6 separate regions of the Homo sapiens genome follow, and regions 1, 2, 3, 4 and 5 are each linked to region 6. Evidence: fine-mapped expression QTL. A gene starts in region 6. Each other region holds a variant in brackets. All regions are shown on one strand. Distances are from middle to middle.

The links.
Region 1: its variant is fine-mapped to the expression of TNFAIP6 in whole blood (INTERVAL, PIP 0.98).
Region 2: its variant is fine-mapped to the expression of TNFAIP6 in whole blood (TOPMed, PIP above 0.99).
Region 3: its variant is fine-mapped to the expression of TNFAIP6 in whole blood (TOPMed, PIP above 0.99). The same link has a PIP of 0.9 or more in blood mononuclear cells, neutrophils and spleen.
Region 4: its variant is fine-mapped to the expression of TNFAIP6 in monocytes after LPS (Quach 2016, PIP 0.95).
Region 5: its variant is fine-mapped to the expression of TNFAIP6 in whole blood (INTERVAL, PIP above 0.99).

What each region holds. Positions count from the first base shown.
Region 1 is chr2:151,281,526-151,286,601 of GRCh38, reverse strand. It overlaps NMI (N-myc and STAT interactor), which reads left to right. Exons shown (of 8, transcript NM_004688.3): 2 at 3,648-3,734; 3 at 4,559-4,654. The coding sequence starts at 3,654. Among named protein-coding and RNA genes, the nearest start is that of NMI, 5.6 kb to the left of the region's middle. The variant T/C (reference allele first, on the strand shown) is at 2,208.
Region 2 is chr2:151,310,362-151,315,437 of GRCh38, reverse strand. No RefSeq gene overlaps it. Among named protein-coding and RNA genes, the nearest start is that of NMI, 23 kb to the right of the region's middle. The variant G/A (reference allele first, on the strand shown) is at 2,194.
Region 3 is chr2:151,288,026-151,293,101 of GRCh38, reverse strand. NMI (N-myc and STAT interactor) reads left to right here and starts at 3,434. Exons shown (of 8, transcript NM_004688.3): 1 at 3,434-3,509. RefSeq lists enhancers at 2,846-3,265, 3,326-3,405, 3,796-3,845, 3,866-3,915, 4,716-4,885 and a silencer at 3,466-3,665. The variant C/A (reference allele first, on the strand shown) is at 2,944.
Region 4 is chr2:151,380,786-151,385,861 of GRCh38, reverse strand. It overlaps a transcript of TNFAIP6 not described here. Among named protein-coding and RNA genes, the nearest start is that of MIR4773-2, 15 kb to the right of the region's middle. The variant C/GAAAC (reference allele first, on the strand shown) is at 2,264.
Region 5 is chr2:151,295,357-151,300,432 of GRCh38, reverse strand. No RefSeq gene overlaps it. Among named protein-coding and RNA genes, the nearest start is that of NMI, 8.2 kb to the right of the region's middle. The variant T/C (reference allele first, on the strand shown) is at 2,325.
Region 6 is chr2:151,355,155-151,360,230 of GRCh38, reverse strand. It overlaps TNFAIP6 (TNF alpha induced protein 6), which reads right to left and starts at 2,639. Exons shown (of 6, transcript NM_007115.4): 1 at 2,471-2,639. The coding sequence starts at 2,564. The region is part of intron 2 of LOC101929319 (a long non-coding RNA gene); the gene reads left to right.

The DNA.
Region 1 (5,076 bases), 74 kb after region 6:
AGGTCCCACATTTAGGCAGATAGGAGAACATCAGTGCACCTTCATCCTGTGCTTTGGGAGAGACAGAGGAGGAGGAGGGGGAGGTCAGAGAGACCTTGAGCCATCTTCAGTTCACCATGTCAAAATGCCATACTTCCGGGTATCAGTTTCTGAGCCCCAGTGATAGCAAAAGGATCCAGTTGAGGATCATGCTTTCTACTTAGTTGTGAGGTCTCTTTAGTCTCCTTCAGTATGGACATTTCTTAGTCTTTCCTTGGCCTTCTGAACTTGAAACTTTTGAAGAGAACAGGGCAGTTGTATTGTAGAACCCCTCAATTTGAGTTTGTCTGATGTTTCCTCATGCTTAGATTCAGATTATGCATCTTTGGCAGGACTGTCGTCGAAGTTACATTGTGTTCTCAGTGCACCTTGTAATATGTTACATTATTTTGATTTATTCCATTATTTACTTTGATTATCTCATTATGTTGATGTCTGCCAGACTTCTCCAGTATAAAGTTACTCTTTTCTTCTTTGAAATTAATAAACATTTTGTGGGGAACTATTTTGAAGCTAACTAAAAATTCCTTTCTTCATCAAAATTTCTAATTTATCTGGACTCAGTTTTTTACTTTAATCAACAGATTTAATCATTACTACCATTATGTATTTTAATCTTTAATTTATCCCCAGATTTGGCCACCGAAAACCATCTCAAGGTGGATTCTGTGTCGTTTCAACATGTCATCATCATTCTTTAAGCATTTCCTTGCTTTTTGGCATCATAAGATGTCCCAGGCTCATCTTGCAGTTTTTCTATCCTGGTTTTGGGATCAACCATTTCTCTAAAGAGTCCTGGTTCCTTTTGGTGGAGAATAGTATTAGAAACCAAAGTCTGGGTGCTGAGTGTGCTCATTGCTCATTGTGGTTGTATCTGCTCTCCCAGGCCTTCTCAGCAGACAGAGCTAGGGTATATATGTATTTGTATATACACAAGATACACACATAGGCATTGCTTTTTTTTTTTTTTTTTCTGAGATGGAGTCTCACTCTGTCGCTCAGGCTGGAGTGCTGTGACGCAGTCTTGACTCACTGCAACCTCTGCCTCCCGGCTTCAAGCGATTCTCCTGCCTCAGCCTCCCGAGTAGCTAGGATTACAGGTGCATGCCACCATGCCTGGGTAATCACACATAGGTATTTCTATCTGTCTGTCTATTTATCTATCTATCTATCTATCTATCTATCTATCTATCTATCTATCTATCTCAATCATCAATCAGAAACCACAGCTGCAGGATTACATTGAAATCTAGTTCCAATCAACAGTATTTATTCTTGTTTTCTCCATTTCCATATTTATAATTATCTTCTCTGACGGTGAAAAACTTGGCTCCTATTATCCTCCATATATTTACTTACTTGATCAATTCTGTGTATGTACTTTTGGCCACTGGAGCCCTTTCAGTTGGGTCCCCATGTCCCTTTCACATACTCCCATCATATTGTATGTGTTTGTGCATGTGTTTTAGTGCTTTTTACTTTTCTGGCACTACAAGATATTCCAGGCTTATTTTGTATATTTTATACCCCAGACCTAGAATCAGCCATTGCTCCAATGAGCCCTGGTTTCTTTTATTGAAGAATATTATTAGAAACCAAGATCTGGGTGTTATGCGACTCTCCTCTTTTTTTGACACTCCTGTGTTCATTAAACTAAGACATAGCTAAGTTTTTGCTAGTCTTCTATTTTATTTTTAAGGAGGAATAGATGTCTTTTATTTCTTTTTCAAGAATATTGAGAATTTAGCCACTTGAAATCTTGGAAAATTATATGGCAGACTGTTTATTAATGTGTATCTAAAAACATAGAATCATGATATCCTTTGTCCCATTTTTGATCTGAGAGTTTTTCATCTCAGTAAATTCATATGTAGGCAAGAGTTCTTAAATTTTGTGTACCATGGATTCCTTTGCCAGCTTGGCAAATCCTATGGGCCTTTCTCCAAAAAAAAAACATTTAGTCAATGCCTGTGGGGACAGGCATGGTGGCTTATCCCAGCACTTTGGGAGTCCAAGGGGGGCGGATTGTTTGAGCCCAGGAGTTCGAGACAGTCTAGGCAACTTGGCGAAAACACATCTCTACAAAAAATACAAAAATTAGCTGGGCATGGTGGCACATACCTGTAGTCCCAACTACTTGGGGGGCTGAGGTGGGAGGATCACTTGAG[T/C]CAGGGATGTTGAGGCTGCAGTGAGCCGTGTTCATGCCCCACTGCACTCCAGCCTGGGCAACAAAGTGAGACCCTATCTAAAAAAAAAATTAAATGCATAAAATAAAATACATAGAATTACAAAGTAAATCAATTGTATTGAAATATGACTGGGATTATAGGCACCTGGCACCACGCCCAGCTAATTTTTTTTGTATTTTTAGTAGAGACGGGGTTTCACCATGTTGGCCAGGCTGGTCTCAAACTCTTAACCTTGTGATCCACCCGCCTTGGCCTCCCAAAGTGCTGGGATTACAGACATGAGCCACCGCGCCCGGCCAGAAATCAATTGTATTGAAATATGGTTATCAGAATATTTAAAAAGCAAATGTTTGATATAGTGATATATATCAATGTATTACAATATATTACAAGACCTAGTGGTGAGGTTAGTAACTAATGTAGAAGCAATGTTAAACACAAACTATTTTAGCATATCTGCAACAATATTCTATGAAACTATCTGTGCTTTCTATTGGTGACTATCACAGGTGCTGTGAATACTACTGTAGTTTGTTACCATATTCATAATTGAAGAGAATGCTAAGCTTCAATTAGAGGTTATTAGAAATAAACATATAATTTCTTCCCAATCCATGTTTATGGACCCAGCAGGAGAGTTAGTGAAAGCTTCAGGTAAGAACACCTGCGTAGAGAAAGCATATGTTGGAGGCCTCTTGACTTTGTTTACATTTGGGGAGAACAATAGGGAGAATTAAATATTTTAATCAAAAACTTTGAAAAACGTTGGAAAACCAAAATAGTATTCATTTAAAATGGAGCATGATATTATGGTTGGAATGTGAACTACAAAGGAACATTAATGTTCATTACTTTCTATATATTATTTTGTTGAAAAGCAAAGGATTTTTAGAATCTTTTTATATATTATAGGTGTGAAAGTTATTTGAAATATTGGCCAGGTGCTGTGGCTCACGCCTGTAATCCCAGCACTTTGGGAGGCCGAGGGGGGTGCATCACTTGACAAGAGTTCAAGACCAGCCTGACCGACATGGTGAAACCCCATCTCTACTAAAAATACAAAAATTAGCCGGGCATGGTGGCAGGTACCTGTAATCCCAACTACTTGGGAGGCTTGAGACAGGGGAATCACTTGAACCTGGGAGGCAGAGGTTGCAGTGAGCCAAGATCGCACCATTGCCCTCCAGCCTGGGCGACAGAGAGAGACTCTGTCTCAAAAAAAGAAAAAAAAAAGGAGTTATTAAAATACAGACTTTGTTTGGATATAAGCCATATGATAATAAAGCCTTTGATGATGGGAAAAAAAGATATAGCAAAGAAGAGATGTTTCTTCCATAAAAGGGTAAAAGTTCTTATTTCTTTGTTCTTAAATTTGTGTATATATGCTATGCTTATAATATTTATTTTTTATAATATTAGGGGATCATGGAAGCTGATAAAGATGACACACAACAAATTCTTAAGGAGCATTCGCCAGATGAATTTATAAAAGATGAACAAAATAAGGTAAAAAGGAAATTACTGGGTATTATTAAAAATTATTTTATATCTATTAGTTTTGCAGTAAGGCATGTTTTGTATGTCTTTGTCCAACATTACCTTGAATTTGGGAGGCCGTTAGGCTTTAAAAAAATTTTTAACTTCCATTATGTTATTTAAGCCTTACAAGAAGTGTCATATTTTTATTCTTTCTCTTATAAGGCTTACAACACTAGCTGCTTTCTCACTCACACCCTCATTTCTTGGATTTGCATCAACAAGTTAAGAGCATAGTCAGCAATTATCTCATTAGACCCCAAGAGGGAACGGAGGCCCAGGTAGCTTAAACCACTTCCCCAAGGTCATATGTCTGGCTCATTAAGGTAACTGTGTACTATGCGATACTATGGGAATCACAGATAATTAAGAACAAAAACAACAACAACACCAACAACAAACTGCCCCAGAATATGTCCGCTATTACAGTGCAATTTAAAAGTCTTATCATGCTCACAAATAGCTAGGAAAGGAGTTGATGCAGCACTGAAGTAATATTCAGAAGATCTGATCTCAATCTTTGCCTTACTATACAACTTTCTGTGACTTCGGTCTAGTGTAAAAGGTGGTTTCCTGATTTATATAATGGAGATAGTACTACTTGGCAATGTTAGAATAGACAGGTGATGATGTAAAATATTCAACAAATGCATTATTCACATAGTCATATTTATTCTGAGACTGTCTAATGTCTTTCTTTGGTCAGGATGAGAGAAATTTATAGTCTTTAGTTCATTCGGAAAAATGAGTTCAGGGGCTATTTACTTTCTTTGGTACCATTTGATATTTTTAAGGGACTAATTGATGAAATTACAAAGAAAAATATTCAACTAAAGAAGGAGATCCAAAAGCTTGAAACGGAGTTACAAGAGGCTACCAAAGAATTCCAGGTACTCTCTTAATTATTTTATATACTACATTTTTGATGGATGCATGGTTTTTGGAAAAAGCATTTTAATTACACAAAATTCATTTTTAAAACCTTATCATCATCCATGGCACCACCATTTGTAATAGTTCAAAATGGAAAACAACCCAATGATTCCTTCATAGTAGAACGAATTAGTGAATTGGGGTATAGTCATATGATAGAAAACTACACAGCAATGAGAATGAACAGATCATAATGACATGCAGCAACACAAATGAGTTTCATAAACACAATGTTAACACAAAAAAGACAGAAGAGGGCATACCATATGCTTCCCTTTAAATTAAGCAAAAGCAGGATGTTTGAAGTTAAAACAGTGGTTATTTTGGAAGCAGGTAAGACCCAGAAGGGAACCCAAGGGGGTTTCTGGGGTGTTGTCAT
Region 2 (5,076 bases), 45 kb after region 6:
GGTCTTTTCCCAGTTCCTCTGGCAGCCCTCCCCAAGGACTCCTGTGAGGCAAGGCAGAAATGGCTTCCCCGGAGACCCAGAGAGCCCACAGGGCTTATCCCGCTGCTTCCTCTACCCCTGTATTTCACTCAGCTCTCTAAATTGACTCAGCTGCAGTTAATGTCAGAATCTCCTCCTGTGATCTAGACCTTCAGGTTCCCCTGTGAGGGTTGTCTCACGCAAGTCTGTGTGAAGAGACCACCAAACAGGCTTTGTGTGAGCAACAAGGCTGTTTATTTCACCGGGGTGCAGGTGGGCTGAGTCCGAAGGAGAGTCAGCAAGGGTGGTGGGATTATCATTAGTTCTTATAGGTTTTGGGATAGGCGGTGGAGTTAAGAGCAATGTTTTGGGAGCAGGGGGTGGATCTCACAAAGTACATTCTCAAGGGTGGGGAGAATTACAAAGAAATTTCTTAAGAGTGGGGGAGATTATAAAGAACATTGATCAGTTAGGGTGGGGCAGAAACAAATCACAATGGTGGAATGTCATCAGTTAAGCTATTTTCACTTCTGTGGAACTTCAGTTGCTTCAGGACATCTGGATGTATATATGCAGGTTACTGGGGATATGATGGCTTAGCTTGGGCTCAGAGGCCTGACATTCCTGTCTTCTTATATTAATAAGAAAAATAAAACAAAATAGTGGTAAAGTGTTAGGGCGGTGAAAATTTTTGGGGGTGGTATGGAGAGATAATGGGTGATGTTTCTCAGGGCTGCTTCGAGCGGGATTGGGGTGGCGTGGGAACTTACAGGGGGAGATATTCAACTGAAGAAGGATTTTGGGGTAAGGAGTGATATTGTGGGGTTGTTAGAAGGAGCATTGTTATTCTCTTATTTGGAAGACACAAGGTCCGAATAAAAGAAGGAGAAAAACAGGTATGAAAGGACTAAGAATTGGGAGTACCCAGGACAACCAATTACAGAGTGTCAAAGGGGGTTCGGCATAATTATTTGCTTGGTTGGCATGTTTTTGGGCTCTATCCTTGAGTTTTTTTATGTTGTCATAGACCAGGCCAGATTGATTTAGGTAAAAACAACCTTCTTCATTTAAAAATATACAGAGTCCCCCCTACCTTTTTTTTTTTTTTTTTTTTTTTTTAGCAGTGAGTAAGTTAGGGCCTCCTCGAATTTGGAGGAAAGAGAAATGCAAAGCCAGCAATTGTTTGTTAAAGAAGGATTAGAAAGGGCTAGGAGAGAGTGACTGAGATTGATAGTGTGGTGGAGATAGCTGGGGAGAGGTAGAGGGTGGCATAAGAATGGGAACGAGAATAAGAGTAAGTATAAAAGTAAAGAATAGGACTTCATCAGGGTGAAAGTATTGGAGGGTACTTTATCACTGAAGATCTTCTATCCACTTCTAGATAGACTTAAGGGTGGCGATTTGAGGTAAAACCAGGAGCCACTAAATACCAAGAGCCTCAGAAACTGAGGTGGGAAGGCCAAACCGAGGAATTATGTCTGACAGAAGGGAGGAAATGACCATGGTGGCCTTCTCAGACCCTGTGAGAAAGGCCTCTACCCACCCAGTGAAAGTGTCTACCCATACCAAGAGGTATTTTAATTTCCTGACTCGAGGCATGTTGAGTAAAGTCAATTTGCCAGTCCTGGGTGGGGGCAAATCCCCAAGCTTGATGTGTAGGGAAGAGAGGGGGCCTGAACAATCCCTGAGTAGTAGAATAGCAGATGGAACACTGAGAAGTGATTTCCTTGAGGATAGATTTCCACGATGGAAAGGAAATGAGAGGTTCTAAGAGGCGGACCAGCGGCTTGTAACCTACATGGAAGAGGTTATGAAATGACAGAATAGAATGGGCCTGTGAGGCTGGAAGGAGATATTTTCCTTGGTACAAGAACCATTTGCTTTGTGTGGGAAGAGATTGATAGGTGGAAGTTTCAGTTGGGGAGTAGGTGGGAGTGACTAGATGAGGAGAAAAACTGCCGTGAGGGATAGAAGTTGGAACGCTAGCTGCTTTTTTAGCTACCTTATGAGCATAAGCATTGTCCTGAGTGATGGGATCTGATGCCTTTTGATGGCCTTTGCAGTGAATAATTCTAGCTGTCTTTGGAAGTAAAGCAGCCTTGAGAAGAGTTTTTATTAAAGAGGCATTAATGATGGAGGACCCTTGTGTAGTGAGGAAAACTTTCAGCTCATAAA[G/A]CAGCATGGTGGTGCAGGATATGGGGTCAGCATAAATATTGATGAGTAGTCCCTTTACAAGAGTGAGGACCCGAATTAAGGCAATGAGTTTGACTTGCTGAGAGGTAGTGGAGGGGGGCAGAGCAGTAGCCTCAATGATAGATGTGGAAGATACTATAGCATAGCCTGCCTTTGCTGGTGAGTGGTGATTAGGCTTGATGGAACTGCCATCAATAAGCCAAGTGTGATCAGGGTAACGAACACGAAAGAAGGAAATAAGGAGAAATGGAGTGAATGTCAGGTGGATCAGAGAGATACAGTCATGGGGGTCAGGTGTGGTATCCAGAATAATGTGGAAGGCCAGATTGAAGTCCAGGCCAGGAACAATGGTAATTGTGGGAGACTCAACAAAGAGTGAGTATAGCTGAAGGAATTGGGGAGCAGAAAGTATATGTGTCAGGTGTGAGGAAGAAAATAGATTTTGAAAGTTATGAGAGCTGTAGAGAGTGAGTTGAGCACGGTTTGTGATTTGGAGGGCCTCCAAAAGTATTAAGGCAGTGGCAGCTGCCACACGCAGACATGAGGGCTAGGCTAAAACAGTAAGGTCAAGTTGTTTGGACAGAAAGCCTACAGGGAGCGGTCCTGGCTCTTGTGTAAGAACTCCGACCGCACAGCCCTGCACTTCAGCTGTGTGTAATGAAAACGGAGTGATGAGTTAGGGAGAGCCAGTGTGGGAGCAACTTTTAGGGCTGTTTTTTAAGGAATGGAAAGGGGAGTGGGGAAAGGATTTAGGATCTGTGTGGTCAACTAGGTTTGCTTTTGTGAGTTTATATAATGGTTCAGTCAGGATGGTAAAACTAGGTATCCAAACGCGGAAGTACCTAACCATGCCCAGGAAGGAGAGGAGTTGTTTTGTAGAAGGGGTTGGGGTTTGGGAGATTAGCCGGACACAATCAGCAGGGAGAGCACGTGTGTTTTCATGCAGAATTATGTTGAGATAGGTAATGGATGAGGAAGAAATTTGGGCTTGACTGAAGTAATGGGGGCTGTCCGTGAAGCCTTGCAGCAGTACAGCCCAGGTAATTTGCTGAGCCTGATGGGTGTCAGGGTCAGTCCAAGTGAAAGCAAAAAGAGGCTGGGATGAAGGGTGCAAAGGAATACTAAAGAAAGCATGTTTGAGATCCAGAACAGAATAATGGGTTATGGAGGGGTTGTGGAGGGAGGTATTGAGGATAGGAGAGTATATGGCTTTGGCACCATGGGGTGATAGGCAAGACAATTTGGTTGTTAAGGTGCAGATCCTGTACTAATCTGTAAGGCTTGTCCGGTTTTTGGACAGGTAAAATGGGGGAATTGTAAGGAGAGTTTATAGGCTTTAAAAGGCCATGCTGTAATAGGCAAGTGATAACAGGCTTTAATCCTTTTAAAGTGTGCTGTGGGATGGGATATTGGCATTGAGTGGGGTAAGGGTGATTAGGTTTTAATGGGACGGTAAGGGGTGCATCATCTGTCACCAAGGAGGGAGTAGAGGTATCCTGTACTTGTGGATTAAGGTGGGGAGATATAAGGAGAGGATGTGAAGGAGGCTTTGAATTGGGGCAAAAGATGGCAATTGAGGTGTGGCTGTAGCCCAGGAATAATCAGGGAAGCAGATAATTTGGTTAAAATGTCTCAGCCTAATAAGGGAACTGGGCAGGTGGGGATAACTAAAAGGAGTGTATAAAAGAATATTGTCCAAGTTGGCACCAGAGTTGGGGAGTTTTAAGAGGTTTAGGAGTCTGGCCGTCAATACTTACAACAGTTTTGGAGGCCAGGGAAACAGGCCCTTGAAAATAAGGTAATGTGGAGTGAGTAGCCTCCATGTTGATTAAGAAGGGGACGGACTTACCCTCCACTGTAAGAGTTACCAGAAGCTCGGCATCCACGATGGTCCCGGAGGCTTCTGAGGCAATCAGGCAGCATCAGTCTTCAGCCGCTAAGATGAGAAGATCCGGGAAGGAGTCAGTCAGAGAACCTTGGGCCAGAGTTCCCGGAAGAATGGCTGCCAGGCGAGTTGAACAGTCCAATTTTCTGTGGGGTCCCACACAGATGGGACATGGCTTACGAGGAATTCTGGGCTGCGGGCATTCCTTGGCCCAGTGGCCAGATTTCCAGCACTTGCTTCTGGGGGAGGGGGTTCTGGAGGAACCCCTGGCAGCTGTGGTTCAGGCGTTTGGAGTTCTTGTGTGCTGGAGCTGTGGCTGGGGTTTGTCTCACAGTGGAGGCAAGGAATTGCAACTTAGAAATACATTGCTACTTGGCTGCCTCTACTCTATTATTGTACACCTTGGAGGTGAGGTTAATTAAGTCCCGTTGTGGGGTCTGAGGGCCGGAATTTAATTTTGGGAGCTTTAGTTAATGTCGGGAGCAGATTGGGTAATAAAATAAAATGCATACTGAGAATAAGACGGCCTTCTGACCCCTATGGGTCTAGGGCAGTAAAATGTCTAAGGGTTGTTGCCAAATGGGCCATGGACTGGGCTGGGTTTTTATATTTGATGAAAAAGAGCCTAAATCCTAGCTGATTTGGGAGAGGTCGGATAAAGAGAAAAGGAGCATTAACCTTGACTATGCCTTTAGCTCCAGCCACCTCTCTCAGAGGAAATTGCTGGGCAGGTGGGGGAGGGCTAGTCGCGGAACAAAACTGTAAGCCAGACCGGGTGAGGAGGGGAGGTGATAAAAAGATTGTGGGGTGGGTGCGCAGAGGCTGAGGAAGAATTGGGACCTGGCTTGGCCTGGCGAGGAGCAGCCTGGGGAGAAAGGGAGGTCAGATGAGTCTGTAGAAAAGGAGGATTCAAAGGACTCAGAGCTTGGGGTGGAGACTGAAGGAACAGACAGGAGAGAAAGAAGAAAGATTTGGGACAA
Region 3 (5,076 bases), 67 kb after region 6:
ATTGAAATTCAAACCCATTTCTGACACCAAAACCATGCTTTATTTATTTATTTACTTTTTGACAGGGTCTCGTGCTATTGCCCAGGTTGAAGTACAGTGGTGCAGTCACAGCTCACTGCAGCCTTGAACTCCTGGACTCAAGTGATTCTTCTGCCTCAGTTTCCACAAATGCTGGGTTTATAGTCATGAGCCACCATGTCTGGCCAAAATCATGCTTTTAACTATACAGTACTGCTTGCCTGATAAAAGAGTAAGTATTTTCCTTTACCACTTATGTAGTCCAATGGGAACACTCTTGAAAACTAGAAGGAAGTTACAGAATTCATTTGTATCCCCCCAGGATCTTGCACAATACTGGGCATAAGTGTTCCAGTTTCCCCAAGGATGAACTGCAAACCAGATCAACACAATCTTAGCAACAGCAGCATAAGCTTGGTGTAGTAGCCTTTTCTTAAAAGAGAATCATCATGTAATAGATATCAGGTAGCTTTCTCATAGTTTGCATAATCACTAAACTCTTGGTGCCTCCCATTTGTTTTATGCTATATTAGTCCTTTTGGACTGTTATAATAAAACATCATAAACTGGTAGTTTATAAACAACAGAATTTATTTTTCACAGTTCTGGAAGCTGCAAGTCTAAGATCCAGGGTCCTGCAGATCTAGTGTCTGGTGAGAGCCAGCTTATTGATTCATAGATTACCTTCTGTCTGTGTCCTCACATGGCAGAAGAGGTCAACAAACTCCTTTGGACCTCTTTGATAAGGGCATTAATCTCATTCATTTAGGCTCCACCCTTTATGACCTAATCATCTCCCAAAGGCCCCAGCCCTAATACTGTCACCTTGGGGGTTAGGATTTCAACATACGAATTTTGGAGGAACACAAACATTTAGTCCATTGCACATCCCTCTGAGATTTTTCACCCGATCTTTCTTCTCAGTCTACTTTCTCTACCTTAATGAATCAACTCAATTTTCACCTCTTCTGTGAAGGAAACTTCCCTGACCTCCTCAGGTAGAGGGGACTACGCTCTCCTTTGTTTTTTACTACTTCTGGTATCCTACCCCTTCCAACACACATTAGACTGTATGTAATACTGGTGTGTGTGTGTGTGTGTGTCTTTATAGAAAGCCTGGGAGGAGTTCATTGCCATGTAGTCAGGGAGACAAATGTGTAACATAATATTCACCTCACATCTGTGTAGATTTACATGAGATATCCAAGGCACAGAGTGCTGCAGCTCATGTGCAACATATTTATTGAGTGCATGATAACATCAATAAATAACTTTTATATTAGGAGAGGGCGTAATTTACTAGAGCATTCCTCGAAAGGTCCCATCAGAAACTCCCCAAGATTTTAATAACTGTTCCTTGAAAAAAAGAATATATCGCTCAAATTGATTTGATAAGTTCAAGGTTGAATAAAGTTAAAATTTTTAATATGCACAAATTTTTAATTTTTCCCTGCAATACTTCTTGGAACTCTTAATGTGCCAATGTGCATTGTGAATTTCCAAAAGTGGATTCAGAATGCAGCATTTCCTAATTGTATTGGGCCATAAAATTCCATGTTCTCCATGTACCCTAGGACACAGTTTGGAGATATTGTTGAGAGTAGAGTATGATATCATTGTCACCATATATTAACTGCTTGATTTTGGGTCACCTCTTTATGCCTTAGTTTCCTCAACTGCAAAATGGGGATAATACCTTCCTGCCTGCTTCAGACAGGTGAAAAGAAATGGGAATAATACCTATATCTAATATTGTTGTTGGCAAAACAAAAAGGTTTATAAAATGTCCAGGAGTTCTTAGTAGATGTTAGCAATTACAATTATTAATAGTATGTCCAGGAGCCAACTCTTCATCTTCAGATCTCTAACACTTTGCAGAATACCAGATTTGAAGCTGAGTTAAATTCAGACTGTTAGTACATGTCTCAGCTTTAGAATGTAGGTGTCCAAAAAGACTTCCCCTCCACCTGTATCATTTGCCTTTTAAACAGAATCTGAGTCAATATATTAAGTTAGTCCTGTTCTGGCCATGGTCCTGTCCTTTAGTATCTTCTTGTAAAAAATAAAAATAAGAAGAAATGAGGTTCAACTAAATAACCTCGAGAGTTCATATTCCCTCTAAAATTTCAAGGTAAAACTAAAGTAATTCTTTCTCAAGTTGCAGCAGAAGGAGTTTTTGTATTTTCTAACTGGTCTGATAAGCACAAAGAAGTCGTTTTTTTTACTTAGAAATGCCATTTTACAGGAGGCTGAGGTGGTGGGATCACTTGGGCCAGAGCTCAAGATCAGCCTGGGAAACAGTTAGATACCTGCCCCCAGCACCCAAATTAAAAGTACAAAAAATCTGGGTGCGGTCGTGAATTCCTGTAATCCCAGCTACTTGGGAGTGGAGGTGGAAGGACTGCTTGAGCTCAGGAGTTGGAGACTGGGCAACAGAGCAAGACTCATCTCAAAAAAAAAAAAAAAAAAGAGAAATGTCACCACTTTAAACTGGTTCCCATCAACCTTTTTGATACAAAGAAATTTTACTTTTGTTAAACTATTTTAGACCACTGTATCAGTTATTATATGTGACTAGGTAGCATGATAACCTATAATTTATGCCTTGAAATAATTTTGACTCATTTTCTTCCCACATCTGTATTTATGAGCCGGGGCAGCTGTGGGGTGGTTCTTTGTGTGGGATTAAGAGACACTGCAGTTCTTGAAATAAACCAGATGTTTGAATTTTCAAAGGAAAAGTTCACACCTAGTGAAGTATTTATTTACAAGCTCCACAACAAAACAAGAGATTATAAGAAAACTTTCAAGGGACATGGGTCACAGAAACCAACAGGAACACCACAGCTTTCCCAACTTCATGGCCCCGGGGGATGTTACAAAAGACACAGAAACGCCGATCTTGTGCTGACTGTAAACATTTGT[C/A]AACTAGTGTTACAATGACTAAGAAATTACAAAAGAGTTACAATCTGATGAAGAGCGATTCCTGCTTTGACTTTATTTGGTTTCTATCCACTTTTCCAACATACCTTATAAAATACATGCAAAAAACTGGTTTTAGAAAGCGTTCCCTAAAATTAGTGTGTACGGAAACTTCAGGTATACTTCTGCTTTCCTCCGCAAAACCACCCCTTTTTAAAAATCGAAAGTGAAATTAGTTTTTTTTTCTGTTAGTGACTAATCATTGGAGACAACCATGTTTAGTATTTGAGCATTGGTTAAATGCTAAAGAAAAATCGCCGTTAAAGCAGTTTTCTTTTTCACTGTCTTTTTCTTTTCGCGGGGAACCCAGCTGTTCCTGCGAGGGCCACCTCCTCAGGAAGACCCCGCAGCTCTCCCGCGGCGCTTCTGCAGGAGGCAGCGACAGTTTCGAGAACCCGGGCCTTCCCCTCCCAGTGCCTCCCGGGGTTCCGGCGTTTCAGGCGCTGCTGTTTTCCGGGAAGGGCAGGCGCGCTGGGCCTTGGGGAGCTGCGCTCGGCGGGCGGACGCGGGTGAGTGGGGAGTCCCTTCCCCGGCTGCCACTCCCGCCGCTGGCAGTCCCGGGCTGGAGAGCCGGGGGTGGAAAGGGAGGTGGGAGCCCTCAGCGCCGACGGAAGTGGGACAGCGCCGGAGTTGAGACCCTGCTCCCCGGGAGCTGCCCGCAGCCGAGTCGCGGAGGCCACGCCGCCTTCGAGGGGGCGCACCTGCTCCTGGGCCCGCTGTGCAGTCTCTGGGCCGTCAGGGCTTCGAGCCTTGTCACTTGTTTGCTTTGCTTCATTGAGGAAATTGAAACATAAAGTTATTTGTGTTTCCTCGCTGTTTTCTCTCTTTTTTTTTTTTTTTTTTTTTTTTGAGACGGAGTCTCGCTCTGTCGCTCAGGCTGGAGTGCAGTGGCGCGATCTCGGCTCACTGCAAGCTCCGCCTCCCGGGTTCACGCCATTCTCCAGCCTCAGCCTCCCGAGTAGAGTAGCTGGGACTACAGGCGCCCGCCACCACGCCTGGCTAATTTTTTTTTTTGTATTTTTAGTAGAGACGGGGTTTCACCGTGTTAACCAGGATGGATACGATCTCCTGACCTCGTGATCCGCACGCCTCGGCCTCCCAAAGTGCTGGGATTACAGGCGTGAGCCACCGCGCCCGGCCCTCGCTGTTTTCTCCGAGTGTCTCTGGAGATAGTCCTTAGGAAAACGGATTTCTTAAGAAAACGATTCTTGGTAGGGGCAGTGTTGTGCAGTCATGGCTGGCGTGTCAGAATAGGCAAGGTTTTTCTTGAAGGAGACATCCGAAGGAGAATACTGTGTTTCCAGTCTGTACAACAGGCAGACGTTCTATTGCCTTTCTTTTTGCTGCCACGCATGCATATAGGAAGATTCGATTCTACACGGCCTGGCACCGCAGTTATATGATTGTATTACGGAAATACGGTGATGTTGATTTGTATCAGTTTTTTTAATTCGCTGCCATAACAAATTACATGGCTTTAGTGGCTTAAACACATAGGAACGCGCGCGCGCGCGCACACACACACACACACACACACTCACATACACAATTTACTATCTTAGGATTCTGTAGCAGTCCTACTGAGGTCTCACTGGGTTAAAATCAAAGTGTTGGCAGGGTTGCCTTCCTTTCTGGAAGCTCTTGGGGTGAATCCTCTTTCCATCTTCCGGAGGCCACCTACCTTATTTGGCTCAGCAGCCCTTCCTCCATCTTCAGGGCCAGCAACATTGCGCCTCTGAAAGTTCTTCCGGGGTCACATTTCACTCTTGACTCTTCTTCTGTCTTCCGCTTTCACTTTTAAGTAGCCTCATGATTACACTGGGCTCCCACAGATAATCCAGGATGCTCTCCATATTTAAAAGCAAGCTGATTAGCAACCTTAATTCAATCTGCAGCCTTAATTCTCCTTTGCAATATAAACTAACATAATCACAGATTCTTGGGATTAAGATGTGGACATCTTTGAGGGAGCCATTGTTTTGCCTACTACATGATTGCATAAAAGGAATGACCATACATCCCACTCATGCATAGAGCAAAAGTATCCAGATGCAAAAGATGCCAAAAGGGTTCTGG
Region 4 (5,076 bases), 26 kb before region 6:
TGCAGTGGCACGATCTCAGCTCACTGCATCCTCTGCCTCCTGGGTTCAAATGATTCTCCTGCCTCAGCCTCCCAAGTAGCTGGGATTATAGGCATGCGCCACCATGCCCAGGTAATTTTTGTATTTTTAGTAGAGACAGGTTTTCACCATGTTGGCCAGACTGGTCTTGAACTCCTGACCTCAAGTGATCCACCCGCCTCTGCCTCCCAAATTGCTGGGATTACAGGCGTGAGCCACTGCGCCCGGCCACATTTATTATCTTACAGTTCTGTAGCTCAGAAGTCCAACGCGGGTCTCACTGGTCTAAAACCAAGGTGTTGTCAGGGCTGTGTTTCTTTCTGGAGGCTCAGGGGAGAATCTGTTCCTATACCGTTTCTAGTTCCCAGCTGCAACCCACGTTCTTTGGTTCATGGCTTCCTTCCTCCATATTCAAAGCTAGCAACATAGCATCACTGTGACCCTGCTTTGTTGTCACCTTTTTTTTCTCTGACTCTCTTTTTATGCTTCCTTCATCCACTTTTAAGGACCCTTGCAATTACATTGGACCTATGTGTATAATCCAGGATAAGCTCCCTATTTTAAGGCACTTAATTACATCTGCAAAATTGCTTTTGCCATGTAAGATAATATAGTCACAAGTTTCAAGGATTAGGACTTAGACATTTTAGAAGGATGGAGGATTTCTGCCTACCACAAAAGGTTATGTTTAAAATCCCATTGTCTGACAACTACCTCCTATCTCTCCATTCATTCTCTCTTATACTCTGATTCTACAGTCTTTGAGCCTTTGTGGGAGCTTCACTTCATCAAGTCTACCACTTTTTCAGTGTGCCTTATTTACTGATGTCCTCTCTTCCCTTCTAATTAAACTACATTCTGGCCGGGCATGATGGCCCATGCCTGAAATCCCACCACTTTGGGAGGCCAAAGCAGGCGGATCACTTGAGGTCAGGAGATTGAGACCAGCCTGACCAACATGGTGAAAACCTGTCTCTACTAAAAATACAAAAAATTAGCTGGGCATGGTGGCGTGTGTCTGTAATTCCAGCTACTTAGGAGGCTGAGGCGGGAGAATCGCTTGAACCTGGGGGGCAGAGGTTGCAATGGGCCGAAATTGAGCCACTACATTCCAGTCTGGGTGATGGAGTGAGACGCTGTCTCAAAAAAATAAATACATAAATAAGTGAAATAAGAAATAAAAATCAAAAAAATCTGCATTCCATGGGTTTTTACAATCCCTCCTTTAAGCATGCACACTTCTTCCTCCCTTGCCCCTTTCTTGTTATACTCACACGGCAAAAACCCAGCAGCGGTTAACGCAATTCTCCCTCTAGCCTGTCTTTTTCTCGTGAAGCTGAACGTGGCTAGAAGAAAACACCCTTGCTGACCAGTCTCCCGTTAAATTCCATGACCATGAACTTCAGATGGGCCCTTTGTGCTGCCTGGTAATCACATGCTATTTCCTAGTTCATTCACTTTCCCACTTTCCTAGAAGACTCTTTCATGCCTTCTCTCTTCTCAACCTCTCACATCTACCTTTCCATCCTCACTGTTGGCTCATGACTTGACTCTTTCTTCACTGAGAAATGCAAAGCAAGAAGAAGTTCCTGCAGATTCCTACCATCTATCTTCCCCACCTGTCGACTTCTGTGGCCTCACACTCTGCCTTCCTCCTAAAGGGTCTGGGGGCAGAATCCACAGGGTCGTGATCTTGCATGTGGGATTGAAAGTTTATTTCCAATGACTTTTATCTGAAATCTAGCATGTCTTTCAACTATGAATGTAGTTAATAAATGTAGCATTAGCAGTACCTGTGCTTTTAGCCCCGAAAGACACTACAGATATATGAAACAGTTTTTGTAGAACTCATAAAATATTGTATACGTGTATTACCACTTTGAAATTATTATTATTATTATTTTTGAGACAGGGTCTCGCTCTGTCACTCAGGCTAGAGTACAGTGGCAGTGGCACTATCACAGCTCACTGCAGCCTTGACCTCCCAGGCTCAAATGATCCTCCCACCTTAGCCTCCCAAGTAGCTGGGACTATGGGCACATGCCACCACACCCAGCTAATTTTTTTAGAGACAGGGTTTCTCCATGTTGCCCGGGCTGGTCTCAAACTCTTGGGCTCAAGCCATGTGCCTACCTCGGCCTTCCAAAGTTATGAGATTACAGGTATGAGCCACGGTACTCAGTCTACTTTGAAATTATGGTAGTTACTCGACCCACTGCTAGATCTTATATACAGCATTAATAAA[C/GAAAC]ACATGCTTTAATGTATCACAGTTTTTTTTGTTTGTTTTTAGATATGGGGGTCTCACTATATTGCTTAGGCTGGAGTGCAGTAGGGCTATTCACAGGCATAATCATAGCTCACTGCAACCTCAAACTCCTGGGCTCAAGCCACCCTCCTGCCCCAGCCTCCTGAGTAGCTGGAACTATAGGCATGTGCCACCACACCTGGCTTTGATTTTTTTTTTTTTCAATGATTTGATAACTGTGTTTTAATATAATTAGTTTTCTTTGTATTCCTTTATATTTTATGCATTTGAAAACATTATTCTGACCATCCAGAAATTTCACCCATCAAAGAATTTATGGTATATATAAAGGCTAAGAGTCCCTCCTGCAGGTGAATTATCCATGTCCCTCTCTAAATCCAGTCCCTCTATTTGTGCACTAGATACTATCTCCTCTCACTGTGCTAAGTGTCCTCCTTTTGCCCTTCTGGATCTGTTCTCCACCTTCTCCTTGCACTGGGCCCTGGAGCTGATCTCTGTGCAGTATCAACCAGATCTCGTTGCATTCTGACTTCTGTTGGGATGAGACAATGGGAGGTACAAGTAGTACAGAGAAGGGTGGAGGAGGGAGACTTTGGGGTATTTATCCTCAATCCCTCCCCATGGCCTTAGGTGGGCAGAAGCTCTTTTCCGGCTTTGGTTGGGCAACCCTTTCCTGTGGCTAAAGCTCCCTGTCTTGATTTCATATAACTGCCCCTGATTTTGCTCCTTCATGGCCCTCCTGCTTTGTGAGCACCCTGTGATTCACCATTCCTTCTCTTAAGTCAGCCCATTCCTCTATTATAATCTCTCCAGGCTCCCTCTTTGGAGAGTGTCATATGATTTTTGCCAGGGGCCTCACAACTGCATGGGCTCAAAGAAATGGCCCCAGCAGCTCTCCCAGCTGAGTTCATTCATTCTCATCAAGAAAGTCTCCTTTCAGCCCACTTGTCCTTACAGCTACCACTTCCTTGTTAGCCAGACCCACTGTCTCCAATACCTCTCCTTTCTCCTCTAGTTCACTTTTCACACACTTCAGTTGGGCCTTTGCCTCCTCCCCACTGAAACTGCCCATCCAGGTCACTGATGATCTCACAGTGTCAGTAGTTTATAATGCAGCACCCTAACCTATGTTTAATATGTAGTCTATTTATTATGTATATTAATTATTATCTCTCTCCCTCCACCAGAACATAAGCTCCTCAAACGTGGGGATTTTTGTTCCTTTGGTTCTCTGGTATTCCCTAAGTGCCTAGAACAGTGCTTGGCACATGCTTTTTTTTTTTTTTTTTAGCGAAGTCTCACTCTTACCCCCAGGTTTGAGTGCAATGGCTCAATCTCAGCTCACTGCAACCTCCGCCTCCCGGGTTCAAACGATTCTCCTGCCTCTGCCTCCCAAGTAGCTGGGATTAAGTCGCTTGCCACCATGCCCGGCTAATTTTTGTATATTTTAGTAGAGACGGGGTTTCACCATTTTGGCCAGGCTGGTCTTGAACTCCTGACCTCAGGTGATCTGCCTGCCTTGGCCTCCCAAAGCGCTGGGATTACAGGTGTGAGCCACTGTGCCCGGCCGGCACGTGCATTTTTGTTTAATTTAATTAGATGGTAATCATTGCTTGTTTAGGGATGGAAAGGCGTGATACCTTTCCTTACCATCATAAGGCCAACACTCCTATAACAAAGGCAGGCTAACAAAAGAAAAGCATTATAAATTTATTTAATCAAAATTTTATGTGACATGGGAGCCTACAGAAATGAAGACTCAAAGACCCAAGGAAAATTGTATTTTTATGTTTAGGTTTGATGAAGAATAGACGGCCATGTAGAAATGTGATTGGACAAATCATGTGATCTCATGGCAATAGACCAAGTGGGGAGGCCCAGTAAGGCCTGTCTGTCTAGATTCTTCTTGGCCTCTCTGTGTAACACTCCTTCCTTCTGGGTGTGGGGCAGGACTCTTCTGGAATGAGGGTCTGCAAGGGAGAAGGAGGACAGAGAGACCTTTCTAGGTTTTATAGCGTGCTTTTTGGGAGAGGAGTCTGTAACTAGACTTGAGGAAGAGGAATTTTGGTTCTGGTTGCTTTTTTTTTTTTTTAAAGACAGGATCTCACTCTGTCTCCCAGACTGGAATGCAGTGATGCAATCATAGCTCCAGTGCAGCCTCAAACTCCTGGGCTCAAGTGATCCTCCCGCCTCTGCCCCCCAAGTAGCTGGGACTACAGACATGTGGCACTATGCCCAGATAATTTTTAATTTTTTAATTTAAAATTTTTTTCATAGAGATGAGGTCTTGCTATGTTGCCCAGCCTGGTTTTGAACTCCTGAGCTCAAGAGATCCTCTGCCTCGGCCTTCCAAAGTGATGGGATTACAGGAGTGAGCCACTGCGCCCGGTGAATTCTGGTTTTTATGACTTGCTTTGGAAGAGGAAGACTTGGGGCAAGAGGGAAGATGGAAGGAGAAGGTCACAGAGATCTTGCTTCTGAGGCCTTCCAGTCTCCTTTAGCTCAAAGTACTCAGTATCCCAAAGTGTCATACTTTAGGGTATCGTCTGAGTCCCAACATCCCTCATTACCGAGTAACAACTGTGTTTTTTTCTCCCTAAAAAGGTGAAGTGACAAAACAAAAATAAAATATAGATGAATACATGTCATATCTTATAATGGGAATTTTTATTCTCTTAAATAAAAGTTATAGGAGGTCATTGGTTTGGACTTAGCTTCTGCACCAGGCCAAAGAGACCAAACCAAAATGGAGTCACTCATGCTAAAGTTTCACACCACCAACCCGAAATTAGTTG
Region 5 (5,076 bases), 60 kb after region 6:
AGAAAGAATTCTCTGGGACACTGCTCCAGCACTCTGGTGAGAGCCATTCTCATGGTTCAATGTCCATGCTGAGCAGTTGTGTTTTCACTATCACCACTGCATGTATAGTGTGTGTGTGGGTTTGTTGAAAGTTCACTTGTCTGACTGTATGACTGAAATAATAGAAAGAAAAGAGGAAACAACTTAGGGGAGGAAAATAGTAAGAGAGAGGAGGCCTAGTATGTTCTGGAGTTGGATAGCTGACTAATTCAGTGGGATGTGGAAGGGAGTAATGGCTGATGAAGTTACCGATAAACTGTAGCCAGCCTGTGGTGGAAAGTTTGGTATTGGGAGTGACGGGAGGGAGTGTACATCTTACACTCTGGAATTTGGATTGTATATATGGGATGTCATCTGCAAGCGCTTAACATGTCGAATGACATGATGATACTGACCCTTTTAGAAGAATAATCTGGCACGAGTATACAGGATGAAAGGAAAGAGAATCATTAGCAGGGTAAATTCCAGATGTAGATTAGCCCCATGAAAAGTCCTGCGGGAAATTCAACTATGAATTTTCATGCAAGAGAGTATGGGGAAAAAGAGACACTGGCTGTGGCATGAGAAATGAAACTGGGCAGAATTTTTGAAATCAAGTTTTAAGAAATCTGTGCCATCTGATCACATTGCCCTTTGCAGGAGGCCAGATTAGGTTTGTGGCCACATAAAAGGGGCTGTATGAGCAGCAGAGAAAACAATTGCTGCTTGGTATATCTTCAGAGACTACATCACAAAAAACCCACTCAATATTACCCATCTTTCTTACGTGTACAGTTCATTAAAGAATATGGCAAAAATGGCCAGGCACGGTGGCTCACGCCTGTAATCCCAGCACTTTGGGAGGCGGAGACGGGCGGATCACGAGGTCAAGAGATCGAGACCACCCTGGCTAACACAGTGAAACCCCGTCTCTACTAAAAATACAAAAAAATTAGCCGAGTGTGGTAGTGGGCGCCTGTAGCCCCACCTACTCGGGAGGCTGAGGCAGGAGAATGGCGTGAACCCGGGAGGCGGAGCTTGCAGTGAGCCAAGATCGCGCCACTGCACTCCAGCCTGGGTGACAGAGCGAGACTCCGTCTCAAAAAAAAAAAAAAAAAAAAAAAAAAGAATATGGCAAAAATAAGAGAAACAGAATGAGTGAGAGAGAAAGATCTTAGACTTACTATCTGACTGACTTGTTTTTATGTGTTCTATCTAAATCTAGATCAGCAAACAACTAAGTCTTGGCAGCCCAGAATCCGTTCCTGGCACACACTGCACAATTCGAGGGGACATGAGGAGGCATTGTGTGGTGCCCATCCAGTGTCATTTTATGCAGTTGTCTTGGTGACTGTATTCAGGTCTTGCATTTTATATTTTAACCTATCAAATTATTTTCTCTATGCAACAGTCATCCCTTTCAACTCTTCTAATTATAGCTTAAAATCAGAGGACAATATTAATATTAATAATATTATTTAATTTTGCATTTACTGTTCAAAAAGTATTTTTATGTACATTAGCTAAATTAATCCTCACCAAACACCCTATAATTGGTAGGTAACATTATTGTCATCATTTTTACATTTGAGAAACTGAGAAATGGACCCTCGGAAAGCTAAAGGGAAATGCGATCAGTAGTAACATTTTTTTGAGCACCTATTATATACCAGATCCTTTACATATGCCCAAGTTCACAGAGCTAGTCAGGGTCAAAGCAAAGACTCAGCTTGGTTCTCCTGGTGATTTTAAGGTGGTGCAATTTCCATGACAAACCAGCCTACCAGGTGTTGTTTGTCCACCTGAGAAAACTTCTATTTGAGTATTGGCACCAAAATTAGAGTTCTTATTCTTCAAAAAGTTGAAAAACAGCTGAGGTCAATCTCCCAAAAGGCAACAACGTTTCCATTCCAATTCATAAAGTCGCGAAGCAGTAAGATCTGAAGGACACTGTTTTATTTTTATCGGAGATGAAGCTTGTTTTTATTTACAATTTCCCTGGACGGGTTTAAGCCCTGAGAAGGATGAATTAACTCTGCCTTTGTATATTAAACATTATCAAACATCCCCATGCAGATATTATGTTATTAAAATGAGTCCTGTGTGTGAGATCATTCTATCTTGTTACATTGTACACTAGGGCAAACTATTTAGAATAAATTGAAATGAATAATTAATGAAAGAGAAGAGAATACCTCTTTCAAGTTCCCATATACACTTGCCCTGTTCTTTTTTCTTGGCTTCTCTTACTTCCTCTTTCCACTCTTTAGTGTCATTTTGACTCATTTCCCCTCACTGTTTATTCC[T/C]TCCTTTCCCTCAGAGTAGCTATAATGGCAGCCTAGCTACAAGCAAGAAGCCAATGCTCTCTGAAGGAGATGGCACGAAAGATAGGAACAGCTCTTGCTCTTTCCTCAGGAAAAGCACACCAGGGTGTGGAGACAAAAGGACTCCATTTTGGATGCTGATCTGCCATATTGAGTCCTGATTAGCCCCAGTCCCATGAATGCCTCCTAATTCCTCATTTATTTACTGTCCTTAGTGTAAGAACATGTCAAACCTGATATTATCAGACAAACTATAGGCTATAATGCATATGGCATTCTTGCCTGTTTTGGAGGGTTGCTTTTAATTGTCTTGCTGGAGCACGTATACCCTTTCCCTGTGGTATATAAGCCCTGGGTCTGGGAAGCAACAGTGCAGAGATCTGCCTTGCCGCCACATTTCCATCTTAACTTTCCATTAAAACACTCCTTACTGACGAACTGGATTTGTCTGCCTTGTTCTTTGGTAGCTCAACTCCTTTGGCATTTGGGGGCTGCTTTGCATATACCGCCCCTTCATGAAACACAGGGACACCTAGAAATACCTCACTTTCCGTCTATGGACTCGGCCTCCAGGCTGGAAACAGTAAGAGGGTTCTGCGCTTCGTAATAGCCAGGTGGCACATAAAACCCGTCGACCAGAATGACAATCTCTGGTCATGATTTTAGTGAACCAGTTAGTGTACAGCCTTGTCACTCAAAGTGTAGCCCAAGCGTGTCCGGAATTGGTGGGTTCTTGGTCTCACTGACTTCAAGAACGAAGCTGCGGACCCTCGCAGTGAGTGTTACAGCTCTTAAAGGCGGCATGTCCTGAGTTTGTTCCTTCTGATGTTCGGATGTGTTTGGAGTTTCTTCCTTCTGGTGGGTTCGTGGTCTCACTGGCTCAGGAGTGAAGCTGCAGACCTTTGCGGTGAGCGTTACAGCTCTTAAGGCGGCGCATCTGGAGTTGTTCGTTCCTCCCGGTGGGTTCGTGGTCTCACTGGCTTCAGGAGTGAAGCTGCAGACCTTCTTAGTGAGTGTTACATCTCATAAAGGCAGTGTGGACCCAAAAAGTGCGCAACAGCAAGATTTATTACAAAGAGCGAAAGAACAAAGCTTCCACGCTACGGAAGGGAACCCAAGCAGGTTGCCACTCCTTGCTCCGACAACCTGCTTTTATTCTCTTATCTGGCCCCACCCACACACCCTGCTGATTGGTCCATTTTACAGAGAGCCGATTGGTCCATTTTACAGAGAGCTGATTGGTCCAACAGGGTGCTTACTGGTGCGTTTACAATCCCTGAGCTAGACACAAAAATTCTCCATGTCGCCACTAGATTAGCTAGATACAGAGTGTCCACACAAAGTTTCTCCAAGTCCCCACCAGAGTAGCTACAGAGTGTTGACTGGTGCATTCACAAACCCTGAGCTAGACACAGGGTGCTGATTGGTGTGTTTACAAACCTTGAGCTAGATACAGAGTGCCGATTGGTGTATTTACAATCTCTTAGCTAGACATAAAGGTTCTCCAAGTCCCCACCAGAGTAGCTAGATACAGAGTGTCCATTGGTGCATTCACAAACCCTGAGCTAGACACAGGGTGCGGATTGGTGTGTTTACAAACCTTGAGCTAGATACAGAGTGCTGATTGGTGTATTTACAACCCCTTAGCTAGATATAAAGGTTTTCCAAGTCCCCACCAGACTCAGGAGCCCAGCTGGATCCTGCACGGGGGCCGCAGGTGGAGCTGCCTGCCAGTCCGGTGCCGTGCGCCCGCACTCCTCAGCCCTTGGGTGGTCCATGGGACTGGGTGCGTGGAGCAGGGGGCGGCGCTCGTCGGGGAGGCTCGGGCCCCACAGGAACCCACGGAGGCGCGGGGGAGGCTCAGGCATGGCGGGCTGCAGGTCCCGGGCCGTGCCCCGTGGGAAGGCAGCTAAGGCCCGGCGAGAAATTGAGCACAGCAGCTGCTGGCCCAGGTGCTAAGCCCCTCACTGCCCGGGGCCGCCCGCCGCTCTCAGTGCGGGGCCCGCCAAGCCCACGCCCACCCGTAACTCGCGCTGTCCTGCAAGCACCGCGCGCAGCCCCGATTCCCCCCGCGCCTCTCCCTCCACATCTCCTCGCAAGCTGAGGGAGCCGGCTCCGGCCTTGGCCAGCCCAGAAAGGGGCTTCCATAGTGCAGTGGCGGGGCCAAAGGGCTCCTCAAGTGCCGCCAAAGTGGGAGCCCAGGCAGAGGAGGCGCCGAGAGCGAGGGAGGGCTGCGAGGACTGCCAGCACGCTGTCACCTCTTACAAGAAACAGCACCATCAGCATCATCTAGGAGCTTTTGGAATGCAAAATATCCACCCTAATCCTACAGAATCAGAATGTATATTTTAACATGATCTTCAGCTGATTTATATGGACATGGAAGTTTGTCAAACACTGGTGTACAGAAAGTCTTCTTGCCCAAAAACATATTTTTCCCTATCTTGTAACTATGCCACACATTTCAAGGGAGATCCACAGAAATAATTTATTATATCAAGATATATATTAGGCTGGGCGAATATATATCTTCGTAGATACATATTAATCTATTTTGATAGATTAATTAGGTGGTGGCTCATGCCTGTAATCCCAGCACTTTGGGAGGCTGAGGCTGGTGGATTGCTTGAGTCCAAGAGTTCGAGACCAGCCTGGGAAATGTGGCGAAACCCCAATCTCTATAAAAAATATACACATAAAAAATTAGCCGGCTGGGCGTGGTGGCGTGCACCTC
Region 6 (5,076 bases):
TGCCTCTTGGGCTCAAGTGATCCTTCCACTTCAGCCTCCTGAGTAGCTAGGACTACAGGCATGCACCACCACACCCAGTTAATTGTGTTTTTTTTGGTAGAGACAGAGTTTCTCTATGTTGCCCAGGCTGGTCTTTTTAATTCCTGGGGTCAAGCAATCTGCCCACCTCAGACTCCCACAGTGCTAGGATTACAGGTGTGAACCACTGCATCCCACCTTCCTTTCCCTTCTTTTTCAGATTCAACAATAAAAATAATTGCTTATCTGTGCATTTTTTATTCTCATGATCCATGTAAAATGATTGTAATTTCTTGTCCTTAACTGTGGTTTGTTTTTGTTTTAAGTACTATTTTAAAAATTAGATGATACCAGAGTTAAAATAAGCCTTAGGGATCCTTTACTTCAACCTTATCATTTTACCAGATTGGAACCATAACCTAGAGAATTTAAAGTAAACTTGTCCAACTTGCGGCCTGCCAGGACGGCTTTGAATGTGGCCCAACACAAATTTGTAAACTTTCTTAAAACATTATGAGTTCCCTGGGCCAGGTGCGGTGGCTCACGCCTATAATCCCAGCACTTTGGGAGGCCAAGGTGGGCGGATCACGAGGTCAGGAGATTGAGACCACCCTGGCTAACATGGTGAAACTCTGTCTCTACTAAAAATACAAAAAATTAGCCAGGCGTGGTGGCGGGTGCCTGTAGTCCCAGCTACTTGGGAGGCTGAGGCAGGAGAATGGCGTGAACCTGGGAGGCGGAGCTTGGAGTGAGCCGAGATGGTGCCACTGCACTCCAGCGTGGGCAACAGAGCGAGACTCTGCCTCAAAAAAAAAAAAAAAAAAAATTATGAGTTGCCCAAGACAATTCTTCTTCCAATGTGGCCCAGGGAAGGCAAAAGATGGGACACCCTAGATTTAAAGTGTCCTGTTCTTGATAGTTGCTAACAGATGTATCCCTTCTAATCCAACTATCTTTCCTTCCTAAATGGTTTCTAAAAAGATTATATTGATCCAACCAACTATAAACATCTGTGCTAGGCTGGCTGGTCAAAAATTTGCCCCAGATTGAAGCAATTTGCAATTATCCTGACCCTCAGATTTGTAGCATACATTAATAGACGTTTGAATTTGCTTCTCTCTACCTCTGGGGCAAAACTTCTATTGTCCAGGTTTATATTTTTGTAACATATGACAACACTTTAAAAGACAACTCTAAATTACTTGATTATTAGAGGGTTTGATAATATTTCAAAGTTTATCTGCCTGGATTTAATTCTTACTAGCTTTATGACATTTAAAAAAAATCCTGACAAATATGAGTGTATTTCCTATATTTGACTGTATTCAACTAAAATAAAGAGATGGGCTCATTCCTCTACTAAATTTCAGATCCCGTCTTGGCCAAATGGATCACAGTGAAATTAGTTCACTGGCTCAAGCTGAAAAAAATAGGCGGCAAGGCTGTGCATTACAAATTAGGCTTTTTAATGAAATCCGCATGGTTGCAGTTATTACCAGAGAGAAACATGCTGAAAGGGAAAATATTCTACAACTGTGCTGTTTAGAAAGCATAAAATCAAAATCTAGGTTAATTTCGCCTTCTCTTTATTTCTTTATTCTATGCAAGAATCTATGCATTTTTCCCCAAGAAATTCAATTTTTTTTTACTATTAAACACAATAATGAACATAGAGCAATATCAATTTGTATCATGAGAATTAAAGCATTGTTTAGCATACTGTAATCTAAGGGGTGTTTTGGATTTTCTGCATTTTCCTTTTTTGATCTATTGTTTATCTTCACTGTTTGGCCTGTCTCATTCCTTACATTTAACAAAACAAAATAACAAAAGAAACTTTCCTTGTCTAACAAAAGGGTCAGAAAAGTATTTATATGGATAGTAGAAACAGAAAGAATCAAAGTGGTAAGAATGCATTCAGAAGGAGAAACATTTTTCACTTTTTTCTGTACTGCAAGCTGGCTTGGTCAAAATAGTCAAAATGTTTGAAAAAACTAAGATATAGACTATAGCTCAGAGTCCATGAAGCAATTATTATAAAATTTTCGTAGACTCCAATTTACCTGTTAGGATTCTGAAATCTGATTGCAAATGCATTGACATAAAAACAGAAGACTATATTGGAGTTTCTAGTTGGTTAAAGAAATACTCCTCACTGTACTACTACATCTGCTTTGAAAAGTTTAAAAATATATTTTCATACTGAATATAAATATTAACTGCTATTTTCTACTGAACAATTCACTTTATAAAATGCTATTTTTAAATTTTAGAGGACAAGAACGCTTAAAAAAAAAAAAGCGTATGTATTCCAAAGGCTATCTTTCCTAAGCATTTTCTTTGAGAACATCAGCCTTGTACAGAATAGAAAAAGTTACTGCTTTAAATTTCCTTCTCCATGATTTAAAGAATTGACATTCTCAACAAGAGGCTCATGAGTGAAGGTTCTTACCAAGCCATATGGAGTTATGAAAAATTCCATCCTTGAATCCCCATCCTTGAGTGTCTTCCCATAGCAAGAGAAATAAGTAAATTAAGATGATCATATCGTCAGTTGTAGTGAAGTAACAGCCTGTTAGGGGCTGCTCACAAATTCTCAGAGCAGTGGCTGAAATGTGACTGAAACATCTGGTTTCCACATCTTTTAAATAGTTTTTTTCAACTGTGAGGTCAGCAAGTACTCTCCAATGGCATTTTCCGCTGTAGAGTTACACAATTATCTCAGTGTCTGAAGCAAATCCTCTGACTCATTTGCATTGGCAACCAAAACTAAGGAGATAGAATGATCATCTATGTTTTAAAATTAACTTACTAAGAACGGAGTTCATTTATTGTTAGTCACAAACACTTTTCTGTTAGAAAGTTTGTGTAACTTGATGCAGATTTAGCAGTGATTAAAAGAAAATCGAACTTCAGTAGGAATTTCAAGATAAATCCTAAATGTCTTATTTGCAGTGTCAATTATGGGATATGGGGTTAAACACTAATCTTTTATTGGTAATGTTGGACTGGCTTTTCTAAACATTGTCAAGCCTGTGTAAAAAATTTAAAACAAAAAGTATGCACAGCTTGGAGAATCCTAATTTTTCTCCAGTGATATATGACTTCCTTATTCTCTGCCTGCTTTTCTTCCAGGGTGGGGTCTGTTGCAGTCTTTGGTGTGTTATGGTCAGCAGCTAAATAAATGTATCAGCTCCCAGAAAAGTATTTCAATTTCAGAGCGTCAGGATGTTCCAGCAGCTTTGGGATGTCCTATTATAACACAGTTTTCCCAGGCCACAAATTCTTGAAGTGTTGGGAGAAAGGTGGGTAGACTAACAAAGTTAATAAAAACTTGTCCCTAGCTTCCCTAGACCACTCTAACTTTGAAGAAGACGATCAAGGTAATAGATAATAATTATTACAGTAAAGTCATCATGTCTTCAAATATCCCAAACTTTCCTCTTCCTTTGTGTAGAATCCTTGGGTAACATATCTGATAATACTCCCACTACCGCTGATGCTAATGGCATTTCCTATTGTTCATTGATAGCCATTTATTGGCAACTTTTGATTTTTTTACAAAATTGGTCATTTTTTGCTACTTAGATTCTCTACTTTTGGTCTCAAATTGCTTCCCATTCACTCCTATTATAGCATTCATTTCTCCCATGCTTTCTTAGTCCCTCCAATGATGTTGGAGTTCTTTGAAAAAGCCAACTTGCTAGACATGCTCTGGTTTGAAGTTAGCTTTGAATCCCTTAGACATCTTTGCTTTGAACATCTCAGGTGTGTTCTGGTCTCATCTCTTCTCAAAAGAGCAGTTATGGGGATGTAGGCTGAGAGTACAGAATTTATTGGATGCTCACTGAGGTATACATAAAGTTACTAGCATTGAAAATCTTTATTTTGGACTGGTGGCACATGAAAGATGAGGGAATTGTATCCAAGTTCACAGATAGGGTTAGTGAATTTAAGTTTGTTGCAAAAGAGAAAGGTATAGTTTAGACCAGGTGGGTGTGACTATGGAGAAGACAGGCATGGTTACTGAGAGCAAGATTCATAGGTAGTTGGAAGGAATAAACCATGATATTTCTTTGGAAAGTATAATTATATGCGTATTTTAAGTTTGTGGTTTAGGAAGTAAATATAACTTTAGTTGTGCAGTGCTACAGCAAAACCTTCCCATAGTCTTTCCAATTCTTTTCTTGTCACATCCTCCAGCTGTGCCCTTTCTGCATCTCTCTCAAGCACCTAATTTCCCCCTAGTTCTCATTTATCAAAAATTACTCTCAGGAAAGGGTTTGCAATTAATCTTTAGTTAGGCCAGATAACTAAGAACAGATACCCTTCTGTGTTCATTTGCATTTTAATGAAGCTCCAAGTAGAGCGAAGTGTGAATGTTCAACTTCTTTTAACACGAAAATTTAATGAGTTGCTTTGATGAATTAACCCGATCTGGGGTGGAGGATTTCTTTCTCCCCTCTCCCAACTCTCATGCAGAATATAAATATTTCCCCTTACCTCTGCATAGTGTCTGAAAATCTCATCCTCCATATCATCAAGGAAATAGAGAATAATGCCTAATGATGTAAGTTCTGATTTTGAGGGGCATTCAATAAAGGAAAGAGGAAATGGGGTTTTCATATGGAAAAGATGCAGAGGGTAATCCTGAGGACGAGAGAGAAGAAAAGAGAGAGTAGCAAAGGAAATGTTGCCTATGAACTTACCTTGGAAGTTGTCTAAGAAGCACCCTCTGCCCAGCCTCCAGCACACACCACCCAGGATAAGCCTCATGAGGAGCTGAGAGAAGATACACTGATAAAAGTTCCTTTCAGGCCGGATGCAGTGGCTCATGCCTGTAATTCCAACACTTTGGGAGGTCGAGGCAGGAGGATCACGAGGTCAGGAGTTTGAGACCAGCCAGACCAATATGGTGAAACCCCGTCTCTACTAAAAATACAAAAATTAACTGGGTGTGGTGGCTTGCTTCTGTAATCCCAGCTACTCAGGAGGCTGAGGCAGGAGAATCGCTTGAACCCGGGAGGCGGAAGTTACAGTGAGCCAAGATCGCGCCAC